Linked DNA regions of Homo sapiens: all the other regions are linked to region 1. The links come from fine-mapping of genetic effects on gene expression. A gene starts in region 1. Each other region holds a variant in brackets. All regions are shown on one strand. Distances are between the middles of the regions.

Region 1 (4,118 bases):
AGAAAGCCAGGCTCAACTGCACAGCTTTGCCACCAACTGGCTGTGTGACTTTGGACCCATCGTTCCTCACTGAGCCTCAGTTTCCCCGGTAAAGTGGGAAAGATTCTGCAGCTCAGCCTAACTTCCAGGGCTTCTGTGAGACTGGGCGGGATGTGAAAGCATGCTGTAAACACTCAGGGTGAGTCATGGTTATCAGAACCTAACCCCTCTGTAGCCTGAGCTCATTTTTGTCCATCCCATCCCTGGAGTCCCCCTCTCTCCCAGGGGGCTGGTAGCCTGTTGGGGATGAACTTGGGAGCTCATGCCTTCCAAGGGGTTGGCACCTGGGTGAGAAATTGGGCAGGAGCACAGCCTACAGGGATGAGAACTTTAAACAAAAACAGCCCATAAATCTTGCCATATAGGGGCAGGGGCCTGGCATGGCTGGGGCCAAGAAGGCATGCCAGGCTGTTCTCTGAGGCAACAGGAGTAAAAGATTTTACGCTAAAGTCATCAAGAAGCCACTGGAAGCACAGCGGGAGGAGGTGGAGACAAAGAACACGGAGCTAGGGGACTAGATACCTGGGTTCTGCTCTGTGTTGCTCTGTGACCTCAGTCATGCTCCTTCCCTTTTCTAGGCCTTAACCTCCTATCTGTATAGTGGGTGCGTCAGCCCAGGTAGTACCCAAAGGCCCTTTCCAACTCAGACAGGCTGTGCCAGCTTTACTTGCCCTTCAGAGCTTTGGCTGTGCCAGGGACAGGCAGGAACAGCTGGTAAGTCTCTCAGAAGGAGCAGGAGCCAAAGAACCTGTGCTTACTGTGACCTCCTCTTCCAGCTTGTGGAAGGGTCAGGCTCTTCCCCGTTTCCTCCACCTCTAGGTAGATGGAATTCACCCTTGGTCCACTTTGCAAGCTACAAGGTTGACACAGGTGCAGAGAACACAGACTCTCAGATGCTTAGGGATCATCCTGCTCATCACTCCCCATACAGGGAGAAACTGAGACCCAGGGAGACACAAGGGCTTGCTTGGGGTCACCCAGTATGTTTATGGCACCACCAGGACTTACACCCAGGGCTAATGTCTGCCTACCACTTGCTCAGTTACAAGTCTCAGCCAAGGCTCAGGTCTCTCCGCCTTGTCATCCCTGTCAGCCAGCCCCTTCCTTCTACTGATAGAGCCAAGCCTCAGTTTCCCTGTTGGAGTGAGTAAAGACATGAGGGTTTCTAGGTCAGGAGTTGGTGAGAATTTCAATCTGGTAATAAAGGGAGAGCAAGGAAAGCCAGGAGGTGTCAGAGAAGGGAGTAGAATCCTCCAGGCTAGGACTACTGTTAGGCAGAAAAACCTGTACTCAGGGCACAAGCAAAGCAGGAGCAGAGGGAGGACTAAAGTTCATTGCAAAACTATTAAACACTGTCACAGTTTGGGGCCTCTCAAGGTCTCAAGGGGGAATGATGATAAAGTTTAAGGGATCACCTAGTCCCACCTGGCTAGGGGGCAGGTAGTGGTAAGAAAAGGGGCCAGAATTTGAGGGTCCTTCTTCCCCTCTGCCTCACAGTGTCCCCTGAGGAGGCTATCTTTCTAGCTCCAGGCTCTGACCTTCTGGGCTCGTCAGACCCCAAGGGGCAGCTGGTCTCACTGCAAGAAACCTGAGAATTGTCCCCTGGGCCCTGACCCAGCTCCAAGGCCCCTTGGGGGAAGGACAGGAAGGGAGGAGAGGGCCACAGAACGCAGTAGATCTCCTCCCTCTTTGGCCCCTCCCAGCTACCCCAAGGGCAGCCCACACTCACCAGCTCTGGGGCCTGCAAGAGCCCTAAGACCAGCGCCTCAAACTTTAAAGCGTCATCACCTGGGCATATTGTTAAAAGGCAGCTTCTGTCTTGGCAAGACTGGGCCTGAGCCTGAGATTCTGCATTTCTGACAGGTCCCCAGGGATGCTGATACTGCGAGTCTGTGGAACACTCTTCGAGCAGCCCTGAGATTATCAGCCTTTAACCCCCGGGGGGAGGAAGCCGAAGGCCCAGAGAGGTCAAGTCACTTGTCCATGGCCACACAGCGAACAGCCCCAGACCGAAAGCAGAGGGCACCTGCCACAGACACACGACATCTCCCCACCCGAGGCAGCGGGAATCAGCTGCCTTTCCCTGGCCCGGGTGCCGTGTTTGTAAACTCGGCTGCTTGGTGCGGCTCGGGCCGGGGTAAAGGGCGCCTCCCAGCAGAGCCTCCCTCGTCTCTGAGCTGGCCTCTCCAGGTTCTCCGTCCGGTATCCCGGGCCGACCAGAGAGAGCCCGGGGCGCCGAGTCCTCTGCGGCGGAGCGATTCCGCACTCCCCTCTCCTCTGAAAGCAAACTTCTCCGCCGGCGCCCTTTACCTTTTTCGGGGGTTTGCAGCTGCTCAGCCTGCTGTGTCTGCAGCCCATCCTCCTCCGGGGGCTCCCGGACGCCGCTTCCCAACTCCGGGGCCCCCAGAGGAGCCTGCGATCCGGGCCCCGCTGCCCGCTCCGCGCCCGCCGGCTGGGGCTGCCGGCGAGACCCTGAAACTGAACCTGGAAGCGCTGTCTTGAGCCTGAGCTGGGGCGGCCGCCCGCCGTAAATACCCGAAGAGCGGGGCCTCAGTGTAGCCCGCAGGGCCAGCGGCGCCGCCACCAGAGGCAGGTGACCAGAATCCTTCTAAATAATAGGAAGCTCTGGTCAGGGCAGAAGAAAAGAAAACCTCAAGGAGCAACAGATGCTTTTCCGAACCCTCAGCTAAGAAAGGGCCGGGGGAAAAAATAATTAAAGCAATTATTTGATAAACTAACAACTATCATTCATTGAGGGCTGTTTTTGTCCCAGTTGTTTTATACATTTTATTTCTATTTCTTGCCATATCAGTGCAACAAAGGTATTACTTCCTCCATTTTACAGGTGAGGAAAATGGTGTTCAGAGATGCAACATGATTTGCCTAAGGTCACATGGCTAGTAAGTTACCACAGCCCAGATAGAATCCAGTTCCTTTTTTTTTTTTTTTTTTGCCGCTATCATAGTTCACTGCAGCCTCAAACTCCTGGGCTCAAGCGAGCCTCCCAGCTCAGCCTCCTGAGTAGCTGGGACTACAGAGGCTCACCACCATACCCAACCAAATTCTTTTCTTTTTTCCAGTCTGATTTTGAACGACCGCCCTCAAGCGATCCTCCCACCCTGGCCTCCCAAAGCGTTGGGATTACAGGCATGAGCCACTGCACAGAATACAGTTCTAACTCCAGAACCTAAACTTTGACTCAATGGCCTACAAATAAATCATAATACTAAGTTTATTGTATTTATTTATTTTTGAGACAGAGTCTCGCTCTATTGCCCAGGCTAGAGTGCAGTGGCACGATCTTGGCTCACTGCAACCTCTGCCTCCCAGGTTCAAGTGATTCTCCTGCCTCAGCCTCCCCAGTAGCTGGGATTACAGGCATGCACCACGACACCCAACTAATTTTTGTATTTTTAGTAGAGACAGAGTTTCACCATTTTGACCAGGCTGATCTCAAACTCCCAACCTCAGGTAATCCGCCCGCTTCGGCCTCCCAAAGTCCTGGGATCCCACACCTGGCCAATAATACTAAGTTTAATTTTAATGCCTCCTCACTTCTGGGCTGATAGTTTTTTCCACCTCACAAGCATCTGTAATATTTGACTCTATCCATCTTGGATAGATGTTATTCATCACAACAACCTCTTGAGGCAGGCCAGGTATGGTGACTATGGGACATAAAATGTCAGTGTCTAGGAAAAGGAGCTTTTGTTTATCTTCTCTTTGTTATTAGCTGAGGTTTCTGAAATGGCAATGCAGGAAAAAGATAACCAATTTTGAAAATCAGTGTGTATGCCTATTTGCGTGTATATTGGAATATTAAAGTCAGGCCCAAAACTCTTGGAAAGGTGTGCTGTGAAAACGGCTTAGAGTCATGAATGGGGAAAGAATATGAGACCTCAAAAAAATTGCTCCCTCCATAGGGTACAAAACCAATTGCAAAAGTGTGTAAGAAAGGAAACTAAGGAAACGTGTTATTAGGTTCTCAAAAGCAAGTATAATAGAGAATGGTGGCTCACAAAGTGTGATTCCCAAATCAGCAGTGTCAGCACTACCAGCCGCCTTTGTTGGAAATGCAA
Region 2 (4,118 bases), 21 kb after region 1:
TCATAGCTAAAGTGTTTCAGTTTGATCGAGTTCTGGGAAGTCTTTAGGTTCCCTGCCTCCAGGCCCTATTCTCCTGCCTCATATGCACTTTTAACACTCAGGGCACACACACACACACACACACCCCAGGCTTTAGATACATGGCTGGTCCCCAACAACACCCATACCCACCACACACAAGCAAGACTGGTAGGTTGTACTGGGCCATATTATTTCAAGGCCCAGATCCTTGCCGTTAATAGTAAGCTGGTAATAATTTCTAGTTTTTATTTTACTTTTTTTTTTGAGACAGGGTCTCGCTCTGTCGCCCAGGCTGAAGTGCAGTGGCGCGATCACAGCTCACTGCAACCTCCACCTCCTGGGCTATGGCAGTCCTCCCATCTCAGCCTCCTGAGTAGCTTGAACTACAGATGTGCGCCGGATAATATTTGGTATTTTTTGTAGAGATGGGATCTCACCATGTTTCCCAGGCTGGTCTCAAACTCCTGGGCTCAAGTAAGCAAGCACCCACCTCTGCCCCCTAAAGTGCTGGGATTACAGGCATGAGCCACTGCACCCAGCCTAATTTCCAGTATTCTAACCAATCACTCTTAGAAGGTGAGTTCTTCAAGGACAGAGGCCTTGCTTTAATAATTGTCACTTCTATGTATGTGTGCACTTATTATATGTACGTCAGATACTTTACATCACTGTATGTCAACCTTGGCTGCACATCTTAGTCACCTGGGTTTTTGTTTTTTTTTTAAGTACCAATGGTTAGGTCCCATCTCGAGAGATTTAGATGTCTAGAGTGTGGCCTGGGGGTTGGGATTTTTAAAAGCTCACAGAGGACTGCAATGTGAGGCCCCGGCTGGGAAGCATGGCCTGATGGTCTTGACCATGTTTAATTTTTCCATTGGCTCTTTCCCCAAGTGTTTCTCGTTTCTCCCGGGGAGAGTCAAAGCCCACCTCCTCAGAGAGTTCTTATCAGACCCCTAAAGGCAACCCACCCCAATTTGTGTTACCATAACCTGATTTTTTTTGTCATCTAGTATTATTACTTGATGCTATCATCTTGTTTATTTCTTTCTTTGCTGATTGCCCTTTACTCTAGTCATAGGCGGATGGGGTGTGCCTGTGGGGGCAGGGGCAGGGCCTTTATCTTGTTCAGTAGTTGAATCGATTAGTCAATGAGTGAATAGTTTTTCACTGAGAGGTAGTTTCATTATTATCATCTTGAATCTTCATTTTGCAAATGAGAAAACTGAGGCCAGAGAGGTTAAGGCCCTGCCGAGGTTCTCTCAGCAGGAGGTGGCAGGGCCAGGGTGCAAGCCGGGGTCTACCTGATTGGGAACATGTCCCTTCCCTTCTTCCATCTTGTTTATGGTTTGGTTTCCAGTCACTGTGTCTGTGACCTTCCAGAATTTCATCCAAATTCCTTTATGTGGAGATGCCAGGTACTCTCATCTGAAAGGAATATGCCACTGAGGTGGCTGGGAGAGTTAACCTTTCACTGACTAAGGGTGTTGACCTCTTGTATTATGGTGGAGTGTGTCTGTAGGAGTCAAAAGGAGGTGGGTAATGGGGTTGAGGGGACTTGGTTGCTAGAAAGATAGACAAGGAATGATGCTGGAAGGGTCTATGCAGCCCCTTCCTATTTTCCAGTGATGCTGCAGGGCATACCATGCTGGCATTGTGGTTACCTTGAGCAACCACACAAACCTCCACCAAGGAGCAGAGCCACAGGGGCATCTCTCACCCACATCCACCAAGAAGCAGAGCCACAGGGGTGTCTCTCACCCACATGTACCAAGGAGCGCAGCCACAGGGGCATCCATCACCTACACACCCACCAAGGACCAGAGCCACGTGGGCATCTCTCATCTACACATGTACCAAGGAGCAGAGCTACATGAGCATCTCTCACCCACATCCACCAAGGAGCAGAGCCACAGCGGCATCTGTCACCCATGTCCACCTGGAGCAGAGCCACATGGCCATCTCTCATATAATCTGTAGGTTCAGCCTTAGGAGAAGTGATGTCTAGTTTCACTTCTTCTGTGTACCACTGGGCAAGTCCTCTTCCTCATGGATCTCATGAAGAGGTTGTGTTACTGGTAGAGGGTCTTGACTGCAAGTTGTCCAGATTCTTGGCATTTTGAACAAAGAAATGAACAAAACGCACAGCAAAGCAAGAAAAGAATGAAGCAATGAAAGAATGCATCC[A/G]GGCACAGTGGCTCCAGCCTGTAATCCCAGCACTTTGGGAGGCTAAGCGGGTGGATCACCTGAGGTCAGGAGTTCAAGGCCAGCCTGGCCAACTTGGCAAAACCCCATCTCCACTAAAAATTACAAAAAATTAGCCAGGCGTGGTGGTGAATGCCTATAATCCCAGCGACTTAGGAGGCTGAGGCAGGAGAATCGCTTGAACCCAGGAGGTGGAGGTTGCAGTGAGCAGAGATGGCGCCACTGCACTCCAGGCTGGGCAACAGAGAGAGCATCCGTCTCAAAAAAAAAAAAAGAATGAAAGTGGGGATTTATTGAAAATGAAAATACACTCCACAGTGTGGGAGCAGCCTGAGCAGCAGCTCAAGGGCCCCTGATACAGAATCTTCTGGGGTCCAGATACCCTCTAGAGGTTTCCTATTGGCTACTTGGTGCTCCCTTCATGTAAATGAAGTGTTGGCCCACAATCAGTCTGATCGGTTGCAGAAAGCAACCAATAGGAGGCTGAAATGTCAAAGGTCACACTCCTGTGCAAACATCTGATTGGCTGCATAAAGCAACCAGTTGGCTAGGCACAGTGGCTCAAGCACTTTGGGAGGCTGGAGACGGGCGGATCTCCTGAGGCCAAGAGTTTGAGACCAGCCTGGCCAACATGGCGAAACCCGTCTCTACTGAAAATATTTTAAAAATTAGACAGCTGTGGTGGCAGGTGCCTGTAATTCCAGCTACTCGGGGGGCTGAGGCAGAATTGCTTGAAACCGAGAGGCAGAGGCTGCAGTGATCTGAGAGTGTGCCATTGCACTCCAGGCTGTGTAACAGAGCAAGACTCCAACTCAAAAAAAAAAAAAAAAAAAAACACCAACCAATCAGAGGCACTTTTAATTTCCCATCTGCTGTGCAGACAAGGTGAGGGTTTGCAAAGGCAGTAGTCTCTGGTCCTTTTGTTACTTAGGTGTGGAAAGTTAGGGTTTTCGTTTCAGTTTAGTTCTAGGAAGTCATTGTGAAACAACCTTAGGTTCCCTTCCTCCAGACCTGTTCTCCTGCCTCATCTCATCCCTGAGAGACGTGATCCCCATAAATCTTTATGGGAGGCAGAGGGACTGATGGACTTTCTTCTGTAACTGCTTCATGCTGACTTGGGAGTAGTCCTTATCTGTTGGAGATCATGGAACTCTCTCCCTACTCTGTCTAGTGAAGATAGGGTGGCTTCTTGATGGCCAGGGGTGGTGTCTTCACTTGGAACTGGCTGGAAACCTTGTTGCATGATCATCTGAGGCTTGATAGTCTCTATGCGAGAGGAAATGAATTCGGTTAAAAGACTTAATGGGAACTTTGGGTGTGGATACCTATGCTGTCAGGAATGTTTGTTATAAAAATGTATTAAAACATTCAACTTAATTACTACAAAGGAAGTGATTCTATCCATTTGGAAGAAGGCAATTAAACTGCAAAAATAAAATAAATGACTACTATTATCCAGCCTACGGTAATTATGCAACAAAGGCACCAAGGAAAATTGGTAGGCATTTACTCATCTTTTGGCTGTCTTTTAAACAGGAACTTCAGGGCTTCCACAGGTTCACAGGTGTAGTGGCTGATGGAAACTTCAGGTTCCTGGTCCGGATCTTCTGGTATTGCTGGCTTGATCCTTGAAAGATGTACCCAATCTAATCCTTGTACTTTGATGGCAGAAGGCATAGCCAGTATTACTGAACATGGTCCCTTCCATTTGGGTTGTAATTGTTGAACAGTTGATCCCTCCTTGCGTGTTTTAACAAGTACCTTATCTCCTGGCCTGATTTAGGGTCGCTAGTTAGTTCCCAGTATGGGGAGCCTTTGAATTCCACACTTTTGTAAAGCCTGCTGAAATTGTCCTAGGTTGACTAGGTATTTTACTGGCTGTTTCTGGATCAGTA
Region 3 (4,118 bases), 39 kb before region 1:
CCCTACTCTGGCCTTCAGACAATCCTAGAATGGGACACTGCAGTGACATAAGAGTCCTTTGACCAGTCCCCCCACCATTTTAATGCAGGGGTAAACTGAGGCTCTGAGCAGGCCAGGGTGGAGTGGAAACACCTAGAGGAAGTTGATAAGTCAGCAAGTCGGCAGCAGAGCTGACAAGCTGGGACCAGGGGCTGTCTCCTTTATGTCAAATGGCCAGCGTGACACAGACTGCCCCTGGGAAAGCCTCGGAACTTCTCGGATTGGGACAGAGTGCTGGGGCAGGGAGGAAATGTCTCCTCTTGCTTATTCCCTTGGCCAACTCAAGGGAAGACGCTTCTCGGGGCCTCCAAAACCCTGTGGGTGATTCCATGTAACTCAAGGCCCCAGGGCTCACTGGGCACACACCCAGGATCTCCATCTCGCTCCCACCCTCGTTCCTTCCTGGAAAAGAACTGAGAGGCTCCTGCTGTCTTCTCCAGAAAAACCTTGGAAGGAGCTGTGACTTCAGGCGTCGTGGTGGGCCCAGGCCCTGCACCCTATGTGGCGAGGAAAGAGACCTCAGTGGGAGTGACAGGGGCCAGAGGGAAGGCAGGCGAGGCATTGGCCCCAAGGACCCGGTACAACAGCTCCTCCTTCTCCTGCTGGAGCTGTCGCCGCAGCTGCACCTCCTTCTCCAGGGCCTCACGCGTGAGAAGCAGGTCTTCTGACAGCTGCCTGTGGATGCACACAGAGCCCAGGGTTGCCTACTGGGAGCAGCTGCCACAGAGACCAACCCATTCCCCCAGGAAGCCTTCCTTAGATGGACCAGCAGCCTGCTGCAGGGTCCCCACTGCCCTCCTTGTTGGCCTGTATACAAGAGGCAATTCAATCTGTTGACCAAGGAGCGGGGGCCTCACAGACAGGCAGGCAGTTCTGAGCTGCTTCAAATCTCTGCTCTACCACTTAGCTATATAATCTTGAATAAGTTATTCATTCTTCTTAAATTTCAGTCTTCTCATTTGTAAAATGGGAAGAAGAAGAATAGGACCCAGCTCTTAGAGTAATTATGAGGATTAGATGAGAAAATATGTACAGTATTCAATAAATTATGTCTGACACATGATACTAGCTCTTATTTACTAAGCCCTAAGAACTGATTCATTCCACTTAGGCCTGGTGCACTATAAATTTCCTGTTTCCTCCTCCCTATATTGGGCTTTCCCACAGAGTACACTCAGCCAGGACAGAGACAAACAGATACTAATCAAGGCATTGGGACTTTGGTTTCTGAGCAGAACTGCCCCCTTGGGTTTCTTGACTCCCAGGGAAAGAGGAGCCACATTCCCTAAATAGGCCCTGGGCCCACCTGTCAGTCCATTCCTCAGGCCCCTCTAAGACTCTCCCAGCTGGGAATTTTGGCAAAAAGGGTGGGGATGGGAGTAAAGGAGGCAGGAAGACAGCTACCTTGACAGGACCACCTGGTTGCGGCTTCGGACATGGAGGTCCTCATTTTCCTGTTGCAGGGTCGTAATTTTTTCCTCCAATATCAGATTTTTCTCTTTCTATAACAATGAGAATGAGCTCAGAAAGCTGCCAAACTCACGCTGCACGATGTGTGCTGTCACCTCCCTCTTATCTGTGGTCACTGAAAGCACTGATTCATTCTAGACTAGATGTTACATTTCATGGAGCAATAAGGTAACTTAGAAAAAAGTAAAACTAAAAAGTTAACAAAGGGCTGCGGCTTTTTGCCACAGGAGAATGGTAAAAAAAAATTACAGGCCCTACCATCTCATTTCACCATGAGTTCATGGAAGAAAGAATATGTTTTGTTCTCCAAAAGTCAGAAGGATATGATCTATATAAATAAAATTAAGTTTGTCTGTTATGTGTTTCCACAAAAATGAGCGAACAAAATCTATACGGAATGTTTGAGATGATCTGATTAAAATAAAGCCCTGTGGGTGATTCCATGTCACGTGACTCAAGCCCCCAGGGCTCCCTGGGCACACACCCTGGCTCCCCATCTCCCTCCTACCCTCTTTCCTTCCTGAGAAAAGAACGGATGGTGACATGAGATGGTAGTGCCTGTAAGACTTTTTTTTTAAACATTCTCATGTGGCAAAATTAAAAGTCAGCAGCTTTTTGTTAACTCCTTAGTTTTATTTTTTTAATTATAAGTTGTAAGGCACACAGGAGGCCAGGGAGACTTCTACAGCAACATAATCTCTGCTTAGATTCAACCCTAGGGTTTCTGAGGCTTCTGTCCTCCCGTGTTCTCAATGCTACCTGCCCTAGTGTCACCCAAGCTACAGCAACATCAGTAGCCTCAAAAGGCACAGGACTCAGATGATAAGGAGCCACTGCTTGACCCAGCCTGGCCACAGACCATGCTCAGTGGTCAGCACAGGTGGCAGGTCAAAGCTGGAGTGAACTAGGCTGGGACCTCCTCAAACCACCTCCCCTCTGCATGCTTTACAAAGGAAACACCCAGAAAGCGGGAGCCTGAGGCTGCATCCCCCAGCCACTCCCAGTCACAGACCACTGTTTCCATGAGGATCAGCC[G/A]CCTGTCCAGCTCATGAATACGCTCATTCTTCATCTCGATGACAAAGTGTAAGCTCTCCAGCTCCTGCTCCCAGAACTGGCTGGGGCTCCCATAATCCTAGACAGGGACAGAGTGACCTCATTAGGCCAGTAGGCTACCTCCCTCCTCCCCATTCTGCCAGCAACTCATTGTTGGACTTTCACAAGTCACCCACCTTCCTCTCTCAGCCCATGTTAAGTGTTTAATATGCTTTATCTCCCTGTATCCGAATATCACCTTTTGAGACATGTGCTAGCACCACAGATGAGGAGACTGTGGTTCGGACAGGTTGAGTCACTTGTGCTAAGTGGCAGGTTTGCTATGTGCACCTAGTTCTCTCTGAATCCAGAACGTGAGCACTTTACTATTCCAGATGCTGCTCTCTGGGCCTTAATTTTCCCATCGGTGAAATGGGAACTCTTTTATTTCCAGGCCCTTGTGTAGGTAAGAGTGCCAGGTCTGAGTCTTGTCCTTGAAGAGGGGCTGGTCTTTCCTGTTGCCCGGCCCTGACCTCCCTGGAGATTCAAGGAGGAAAAGCGCCCAGGGTGCTGCCACCTACCTGGATATGTTTCTTATAGTTTCGGCTCAGAATGGACTCCTCCACCCTCTTCATTTTGGCCTGGAAAGCCTCCAGCTGTGAGGTCAGTCTGTCTATGGTCTCCTGGAGCAGGGAGTGGGATGGAGACAATCAAAGCCTGCCTCATAAATGCTGTAGGTGAACTTCGCCACATCCCAGAGGGAGAACGGTTTTGGGTTCTTCAATCTGTCTTTGGCTACTCTACATGACAATGCAACATCAACATACTTCGACCACTGCTTGAGATCTACCAGCCCTTACAGTGCAGAATTGCATGCTGGGAAGAGAAAGAAAGAAGAGAAAAGAAAAGAGGAAAGAAAAGAAGACGGGAGGGGAGGGGAGGGGGACGGGAGGGGGAGGGAGATAGGGAGGGGAAGGGAGGGGGACAGAGAAGGAGAAGGAGAGGGAGGGAGAAGGAGAAGGAGAGGGAGAAGGAGAGGAGATGAAAGGAACATACCAACCCCACCTCTTGCTTTAATGCCTTTAACGGCTCCCCATACTGCAGGGAACAATGTCCTGCTATAAAAGATGGTTGTTAGCCTGGCATTCAAAACACATCCAAACCAGGCTCAATGAATTTTTCCAAGCTCACCTCTCACTGCTCCTTCTATACATCCTCTCCTGCAGCCAAACATCACAATAGTCCCCCAGCTGCAGGGTACATTCTTATCTCCAAACTGTTTCACTGCCAAGAACTTTCTCTACTTGAACCGTGACCACTACCGTTAGGCTAGAGCACAACCCCTTAAGGTGGCTCACTGGCTTCCACTCTGGCCCTTGCTCACGTTCTTAGCCTTAGTCCCCTCTCCCACTGAAACTCATACCCCAGGCATCCTGGACATCTTTCGGTTCCTCAGGTATTCCATATTTTTCCTTTTTCCTCCATGTCTTTGAACACATTGCTTTTTTTCTGCCTGAGGCACCCTTCCTACCCTTCTTTACCAAAGAATTCCAACCCATCCTTCAGACTCCAGCTTA
Region 4 (4,118 bases), 28 kb before region 1:
CTTTATCAAAATTAAAAGCTTGGCTTTGTGAAAGACATTATTAACAGAATGAAAAAAATCACCCCACTGGCTAGGAGAAAATATGTGCAAATACAAAGAACTCTTGTCCAAAATATATAAAGATATCTCAAAACTCCACAGTAAGGACAAGCAAGTTAATTTAAATGGGAAAAAGACCTGAACACACATTTGACCAAAGAGGATATGTAGACAGCAAATAAGCACATGAGTTGTTATTGAAATGTAAATTAAACCTATGGTGAAGATTACTGCACACCTATTAGAACAGCTAAAATAAAAAACCAGTGACAGCAAGTATTGGCATGAAGTAGCAACGGTATAACTCATACATCACAGATGGTGATATAAAATAGTGGTCACTCTGGAAGACAGTTTAGCTGTTTCTCATAAAGCTAAACATACATTTATCATATGACCTATCCCACTCCTGTGTATTCACCCAAGATAAATGAAAACCTATGTCCACACAAAGCCTGCACATGAATGTTAGAACAGCTCTATTCATAATTGCCTCAAATGTCCTGCAACAGTGAATGAGTAAACAATGGAATATAACTCCACAATGAAAATGTATGAATTATTGAGATATGCAACAATTGGAATGAATGTCAAAGGCATCGTGATGCATGAAGGAAGCCAATATAAAAAATCATATTGTATTATTTCATTTATGTAATAGCCTAGAAAAGACAAAGCTACAGAGATGGAGAACAGATCAGTAATTGCCAGGGGTTAGGGTGGGAGAAGGATGTGAATACAAGGGTATTTTGAGACGGCTTTTTGGGAGTGATAAAACTGTTGTGTATCCTGATTGTGGCGATGGTTACAAGAATCTATACATGCGGCAGGGCGCGGTGGCTTACACCTGTAATCCCAGTACTTTGGGAGGCCAAGGCGGGTGGATCACGAGGTCAGGAGTTGAAGACCAGCCTGACCAAGATGGTGAAACACTGTCTCTACTAAAAATACAAAAATTAGCTGGGCATAGTGGCACGTGCCTGTAATCCCAGTTACTCGGGAGGCTCAGGCAAAGAATTGCTTGAACCCGGGAGGCGGAGGTTGCAGTGAGCCGAGATCACGCCACTGCACTCCAGCCTGGGTGACAGGGCGAGCCTCCATCTCAAAAAAAAAAAAAAAAAAAAGAATCTATACATGCATTAGAATTTATGAAAATGCACATCCCCTCAAAAAGAGTCAATTTTACTATATGATAATTTAAAAAATAAAAAAAAGACAGCAAAGGGTCATCGAATGTGGAAAATCACCACTAGTCTCTCCTGGTTATCTGTGTACCTCTCCCCATACATATAAAATGTCATATATTTCCACCATCCTGTGCTTTCATTCATTCATTATAGACTTATGTAGCACTTAGTATGTGCCAAACAATTTAAAAATAACTATAGAAGAATTCTGACTAATGGGAAAAACTCAAGACAGGCAATCTCTTCTCCCCTGGGTGTTACAGTAGGAAATTCTTCTTATTAATATATTTGTAACGCTAAAAATAATATCAAAGCAATGCTTGGAGAATAAAGTTGTTTTCCCATAAAGTCTTGTGAGGTACAGAAGGTAGATTTTAGAGATAGAGAAACTGAACCAAGATTCAAGGAGGTTGAGTGATAGCCCCAGTTCAACAGGGTATGGTATTATTAAAACACAATTCTTCGGCTGGGCGAGGTGGCTCACGCCTGTAATCTCAGCACTTTAGGAGGCCGAGGCAGGCGGATTATGAGGTCAGGAATTCGGGACCAGCCTGGCCAACATGGTGAAACCCTGTCTCTACTAAAAATACAAAAATTAGCCAGGCGTGGTTGCAGGTGCCTGTAATCCCAGCTACTCGGGAGGCTGAGGCAGAAGAATCACTTGAACCCGGGAGGCGGAGGTTACAGTGAACCGAGATCATGCCACTGCACTCCAGCCTGGGGGACAGAGTGAGACTCCATCTCAAAAAAAAAAAAAAAAAAAAACACGCACACTCACACCCACACACACACCCACACACACCCACACCCACAAAACCACAATTCTTCAATTTCCAGGCAAGGACTTTAATTCCATTTCACAATGTTTGCAATAATGTGTGCTAATGTTGCAATATGTTTCAAGATTCTTAAAATCATTCAGACCTCTGTT[C/A]TAGTTATTCCATCTGGGTAAATCTAAGGACATAATGTGAAATACCGGCAACATTATGCAAAAGCTGTTTTGAGATCTAGAGGTCTAGACTCACAAGAAATAAGGAAAGCCATGTACTTTACGGTCTTGCCTTTATAAACATTTTAGTAGCAGCATAATTACTTGGAAACATATTTGATACAATGTTAAATGAAAAGAACAGGATATACACTTTTACGTACAAAATAATCACAACCATGTGTTTTGTTGTTTTGTTTTGTTTTTTAGATGGAGTCTTGCTCTGTCACCCAGGCTGGAGTACAGTGGTGAGATCTTGGCTCACTGCAACCTCTGCCTCCCGGGTTCAAGCAATTCTCCTGCCTCAGCCTCCTCAGTATCCTGAGTAGCTGGGATTATAGGTGCACACCACCACACCAGACTAATTTTATTTTTTAGTAGAGACGGGGTTTCATCATGTTGGCCAGGCTGGTCTCGAACTCCTGACCTTGTGATACACCCGCCTCGGCCTCCCAAAGTGCTGGTATTACAGGTGTGAGCCACTGCACCCAGCCACAGCCATGTTTTAAGAAGATAAATAATTCTGGGGAAAGGCCATGCGAATACTCATGATGAAAGGAAAAATCAGTAAAGCATTTTCAAGGTCAATTTCAGTAACATCAGTAATATACATAACCTTCTCCAGAGAAGATACACAAGTCACCAAGAAGCACATGAAAAGATGCTCAACAGAATTAGGCATTAGGGAAATGCAAATCACAACCACAATGCGAAACCACTTTATGTGCACTAGGATAGCAACAGGTGTTGCAGAAAATAACAAGTGTTGAAAAGGATGTGCCACCATTGGAACTCTTGTGGGTTGCTGATGGGAACATAAAGTGGTACAGCCCCTGTGGAAAACAGTTTGGCAGTTGTTCAAAAAGTTAAGCACAGAATGATCGTATGACCCAGCAATTCTCCTGGGTGTACACCCAGGGGGAACTGAAAACAGCTGTTCAAGTAGGTGCCTGTACTAGTGGCACTATTTACAGTGGCTAAATGGTGGAGGCAGCCTAGGTGTCCATCAACTGATGATGAATGGGTAGAGTGTGGTGTGTCTGTGCAATGGCAAATTACCCAGCCGTAAAAAGAAACAAAGTGTAGATGCATGCTGCAACACAGATGAGCCCTGGAAACATTTCAAGGTGAAAACATTCCAAGGTGAAAGAAGTCAGATGTGGGTGATCATGTGGGTTATACAATCCCGTTTATATGCGTGTCCAGAATGGACAAGGCCATAGAGACAGACAGTGGATTGGTGGTTGCCAGGGGCTAGTGGTAAGATAAGAAGTGACTGCTTAGGCTGGGCACAATGGCTCATGCCTGTAATCCCAGCACTTTGGGAGGCCGAGGTGGGCGGATCACTTGAGCCCAGGAGTTTGAGATCTGCCTGGGAAACATGGCAAAACCCCATCTCTACAAAAAAATATAAAAATTAGCTGGGCATGGTGGCACGCGCCTGTAGCTACTCAGAAGGCTGAGGGGCAAGGACTGCTTGAGCCCAAGAGGCGGAGGTTGAAGTGAGCCGAGATCGTGCCACTGTACTCCAGCCTGGGCAACAGAGCGAGACCCTGTCTCAAACAAACAAACAAACAAAACAAAAAAAACAAAAACAAAACAAACAAAAAAAGTGCCTGCTCGGTGGGTGGGAGTTTCCTTTTGGGGTGATGGCACTGTGAATGTATTAAATGTCACTAATGGTAAATCTTATGTCTATTTTACCAAAATAAAAAATAGATATACATAAACTTTACCACACCAATTCTATTAGGATGTTATTCTAATGCTGAAATCATGAATGTGACAAAGATGTTATAAAACCGGGGTTGATTATGTAAGTATCATTGCTGTTATAGACAATGAGAAAAATCTTGAAATTACCTAAATGCCTAACAAAGGGACTCAGTTAAATGAACAAGGGT
Region 5 (4,118 bases), 44 kb before region 1:
CCTTGCATTGTGCATGATTGCATGTGCAGAGAGGGAAAGATTTCTTTAATACACACAGCAAGCTAATGACAGATCTGGAACTAGGAAGTTTGTCTTCAGCATCCTCAGTCCAGGACCCCTTCCTTATGAGACAGGAAGGAGCATAGAGAATGGGGATGGGAAGAGATAGTGAGGTTTCAGGTCCCCAAGAAAGACCTCATGCTCCTGGGTGGTAATAGAGCCACTGGGAAGCAACAAATCTTTTTCCCCACATTCCCAGACCCTGAGGAGCTCTTTGTCCCTACAGATAACTACTATGAGGTGGTACAGCTGCGCACTCATCATCCAGCCTTGCTTCCCTTCCAAGTTAAAAACCCCCTGGCCCAGATGGCACTACACTGGGAGCTCCCCACTGAGGAGGTCCCAGTGGGAGACAGACATCTCCTTTGATGTGAAGAAGGGCTTCACTATTCACCAGGCCCAGGCTTCCTTGGCTGGCTCCCTCTTATGCATGGCCAGCCTAGGTGGCATGAGACAAATCTCTACCAAGTACATTCTGGTCTATATCAATTGCACATGGGTCTAGGGCTCTGGGTGGGCAGGGAAGGGGAGGATATGGGGAGATATACCTTCTTCAGGAACCTCTGGTTTCGGCTCTGTGGATTATGGAGCTCTAAACAACATCAGCTTTTGATGACTCTCTATGTAGTCAGCCGTTTTGTCCAGCCAGCCGATCAGCCATGGAACCAGCTGATACCAGCTCAGCCTTTCTATCCATTGACCTATTCACAATCAAGTCAAACTGTTCCATGCATGAATCCTCCATCAGTCAATCATTCCATCACCTACCCATACTCCATTAATTCATTTTACCCATTCATACATCTACACATCCTCTATCAATTCAACCACCTCAACCATTCACCCTCTACCCATTTAGCCATTCTGCCCATTCATTCTATTCATCCATCTCTCCATCCCTCTATCTACCATCAATTCAACAATTCTAACAATCAAGTCAACATGTTTGTCTCTAACTTCTCTACCCTCTTAACCATGGCAGACCCATCTTCCTCCCCAAAACCCACCATCCAAGCTTCAGCAACATCAGTATAACTAGGAGAAAACTTCAGTGTGACCTGCATGGTTCTGGGCCGAGCCAGAGATTGCTGTGGACCTTAGCGAGGGATATTCAGGGCAGAAGGTAAGCAGCGGGTAATGGAGGCTGTGTGTATGTGTGTACATGGTGGTGGAGTGTTGGGGCAGGGAGGTGGGAGTGAAGGATTAGTTAGGACCAAGAGCAATCATGGTGGGATGGAGCTACTGCTTGACTGGGAATCTGATAAACCTGGATTCTGGTCCCAACTCTGATGCTGCTTCTCTGAGTTACCTAGGGCAAATCACTTCCCTTTTCTGGGCCCCAGTTTTCTCATCTTTCAAATAGTAACTTCTCAGATTACTGCGTAAGAATGCATAATTTGTTCCTTTCTTAATTTAACCAAAAATGAGCACTTGCCACATGCCAGACACTGGACTAGGTACTAAGGTTATGAGGATGAGTCTAAAAGAGATGGCTTCTGCTATCTGCAAGTTTATCATCTAAGCAGGGAGAAGTGAAATATGGACAAAAGTGACCATGCAGACAATGCCAAATGATACAATGAGCATAAAACAGGGCAATGCGATAGGGTCTACCTAAGATATAGTGGTTAGGGAGTCATCTCCAAGGTGACATTCAAGCCGAGACCAGACTGGCCTCAGCCACACAAAGATGGTGCTGGAGCAAATGCTCAGGCTCTGTGGCTGGGTGTGTATGTGTAACAGGAGATGAACGTTAGCAACTGTTTCCTTGGCATCTGCTGTGAGATCAGACCTTCCCAAGTGGTGTTGGAGAGGTAGTGTTTCTTTCTTCTCAAAGAACTTACTCCCATGAAATTCAAACATCTGGAGAACGGCTGTGCTAAAAGGTATATTACCAACCTGGAGGACCTGAGGCATTTGTAAGAGGACTTCCTGGAAGAGCTGGAATTTGACAGGAGCCTTGTGGAGAGGGAGGGGGAAGATCCAGACCTGTGGTACTA[G/A]GAGAAAGAATAAGGGCGAACATGTCACACCCACATGAGACCCAGAGACTCATCTGTCCCACCACTGCCACCTGTGGAGAATGCAGGGGAGCATGTGGGCCCAGGAACTCAAGCATCATTCTTGAGACTCCCAGGAGCCATCAATGACATGTGAGCAGTGAGCTGATCTTGTATGGGTCCCAGGGAAAGAGTGGCTCAGAAAGACCCATGAGGGGCTATCACCCAGCTGGAGGCCATTTAAGAACAGTATAGGACAGGGAAACAAGGTGCTCTACAAGCTGTGATTTGACAAGATCACCACTTTCAGTAGCCCTGAAAAGGAGGCCAGTGGCACCCAGTGAGGGTGCCCTGTGGAACCCAGTGAGGGTGCCCTGTTCCCCCCGAACTTAAAACACTCTGGCTCCACCTCGCTCCAGTCATTTGTGTAGCCTGAGCTGGCACATAGCGACTTCCCGAGTTCATCTCTCCATTCCCTGCAGTGGCTGCAAGGATGTGATAAAGGTGAACTCCACAGAGGCCTTAGGCATTGGAAAGGGTAAAGGATCATTCTCCCACTTGTCAGAAGAGGAAACTGAGACCCAAGAAGGGGAAAGGAGCATACAGACGGTCAGGAGACACTGGCTTGGCTTTACCAGGATTTCCCCAACATGTTCTTTAGAAGGGTGGAATACCAGAAAGTTCCCTCCCACCCTACCTCACTTCCTCTTATAACCATTACCTGTCTTGGAGATTCAAAATACACAGGTACATGTAACAGACTCAGTGGTCGGAGTCTACCCAATTTCACTTTGCTTTTCTTAATGTTTCCAAAACACTTTTGGTAGTAAAATTCTTCCTCTTCCTCTCCTTTGAGGAGGTAGCATCCCTACAGAAGCAGAGGGCCACAAAACCCACGTTGGGAAGTACTTCCCTGGACTGAGTTACCTCTGGACACTCTTTGAGAAGGGGAGGGAAACCCAGCTTTTCTCTGCAGACTTGAGAAGCTTAACGTTTTTCACAAAGAACCTGGCCTTTAAGGTGCTCTGACACCAAGCTGAAGTGTGACCTTGGGCAAGTCACTTCTCCTTTCCCCAAAGAGATAAATGGTGCCTCTTACCTGACCCTGGTGTGTGAGTCAGAGATGCACCTGGGGCAGCTGATGGACAGTCCGTTTTTATCCCCTACCGTTGGGCCAACCACTCTACATCAGTGAACAGGCCCATGTGGTACACGGGGAGAGCCAGGTACAGCAGGAGGCAGAGGGCACCCTGTATGTGGAGGGGACCTGGGCTAGGGATGCTGGTGTCTACACCTGCTGGGCCACCAACCTTCAGGGCACTGGTTTGGCCACCACCCATGTCCACGTGACTCGAGGTCCTCGTGTCTCCTCTACCCCTTCCTAGCTCCCTCCCTGGCCACAGGCATCTGGATGTGGAGCAATAGGCAGAATCAGGGGTAGGTACCTGTGGGAACATCAGTGTTTCTGATGCCAAAGAGGGGTCCTGCAGTGCAGAAGGTGACTTCTCATTCATCCTCGCAGTCTCTCCCACCCCATCCCTCTGTTTTCACCACTTACTTCAACCTCAGCCTCACTCCAAGCCTTGGTCTATTTTGAAGGCCATCCTTTAATCCAGGCTTCACCCTAGCCCCAGGCCCCACATCCACAATTAGGGCAAAGCAAGGGCCAGTGGGGCTTTGGTGCTTGAGGAGAGTGCCCAGAACCACGAGTGGGCTACCCAGGCCCCAGATTTACTCTTCAGAGATCCCCACCATTGGCAGAAGTCCTTGTGAAGACCCACCTCCCCACCCTCCCAGAAAAACACAAAAGTCACATAAATAAGGTGCCGCATGTTCTTTTTAGTTTCCATACATCGTCTGTCCCAGAGTGAGGAGAAGTTGATCTCCTTCCCACATCCACCACAGGCTGCGTGAGGGAAGCCTGGCTCCCCACAACTTGCTCCTTCTCCAGCCCTGCCCCTCTCAATTAAAACAATGCTTTCTTTTTTCTTTTCTTTTTTTTGAGACGGAGTCTTGCTCTGTCACCCGGGCTGGAGTGCAGTGGCGCGATCTTGGCTCACT

The links.
Region 2: its variant is fine-mapped to the expression of CCDC69 in whole blood (INTERVAL, PIP 0.96).
Region 3: its variant is fine-mapped to the expression of CCDC69 in whole blood (TOPMed, PIP above 0.99).
Region 4: its variant is fine-mapped to the expression of CCDC69 in subcutaneous fat (GTEx, PIP above 0.99). The same link has a PIP of 0.9 or more in breast, fibroblasts, liver, lung, tibial nerve and visceral fat.
Region 5: its variant is fine-mapped to the expression of CCDC69 in whole blood (TOPMed, PIP above 0.99).

The regions. Positions count from the first base shown.
Region 1 is chr5:151,221,574-151,225,691 of GRCh38, forward strand. CCDC69 (coiled-coil domain containing 69) reads right to left here and starts at 2,519. Exons shown (of 9, transcript NM_015621.3): 1 at 2,350-2,519. The coding sequence starts at 2,397. LOC105378230 (a long non-coding RNA gene) reads left to right here. Exons shown (of 4, transcript NR_160730.1): 4 at 1,903-2,777. RefSeq lists enhancers at 302-521, 1,942-2,051, 2,072-2,271 and silencers at 2,392-2,471, 3,955-4,118.
Region 2 is chr5:151,242,604-151,246,721 of GRCh38, forward strand. LOC124901115 (a long non-coding RNA gene) reads right to left here. Exons shown (of 3, transcript XR_007059003.1): 3 at 3,069-4,118. Among named protein-coding and RNA genes, the nearest start is that of GM2A, 8.5 kb to the right of the region's middle. The variant A/G (reference allele first, on the strand shown) is at 2,206.
Region 3 is chr5:151,182,901-151,187,018 of GRCh38, forward strand. CCDC69 (coiled-coil domain containing 69) reads right to left here. Exons shown (of 9, transcript NM_015621.3): 6 at 3,123-3,224; 7 at 2,522-2,641; 8 at 1,444-1,541; 9 at 1-714. The coding sequence ends at 537. Among named protein-coding and RNA genes, the nearest start is that of ANXA6, 27 kb to the left of the region's middle. The variant G/A (reference allele first, on the strand shown) is at 2,545.
Region 4 is chr5:151,193,749-151,197,866 of GRCh38, forward strand. The region is part of intron 4 of CCDC69 (coiled-coil domain containing 69); the gene reads right to left. Among named protein-coding and RNA genes, the nearest start is that of CCDC69, 28 kb to the right of the region's middle. The variant C/A (reference allele first, on the strand shown) is at 2,158.
Region 5 is chr5:151,177,176-151,181,293 of GRCh38, forward strand. It overlaps CCDC69 (coiled-coil domain containing 69), which reads right to left. Exons shown (of 9, transcript NM_015621.3): 9 at 3,877-4,118. It also overlaps the pseudogene PDGFRL2P. Among named protein-coding and RNA genes, the nearest start is that of ANXA6, 21 kb to the left of the region's middle. The variant G/A (reference allele first, on the strand shown) is at 2,061.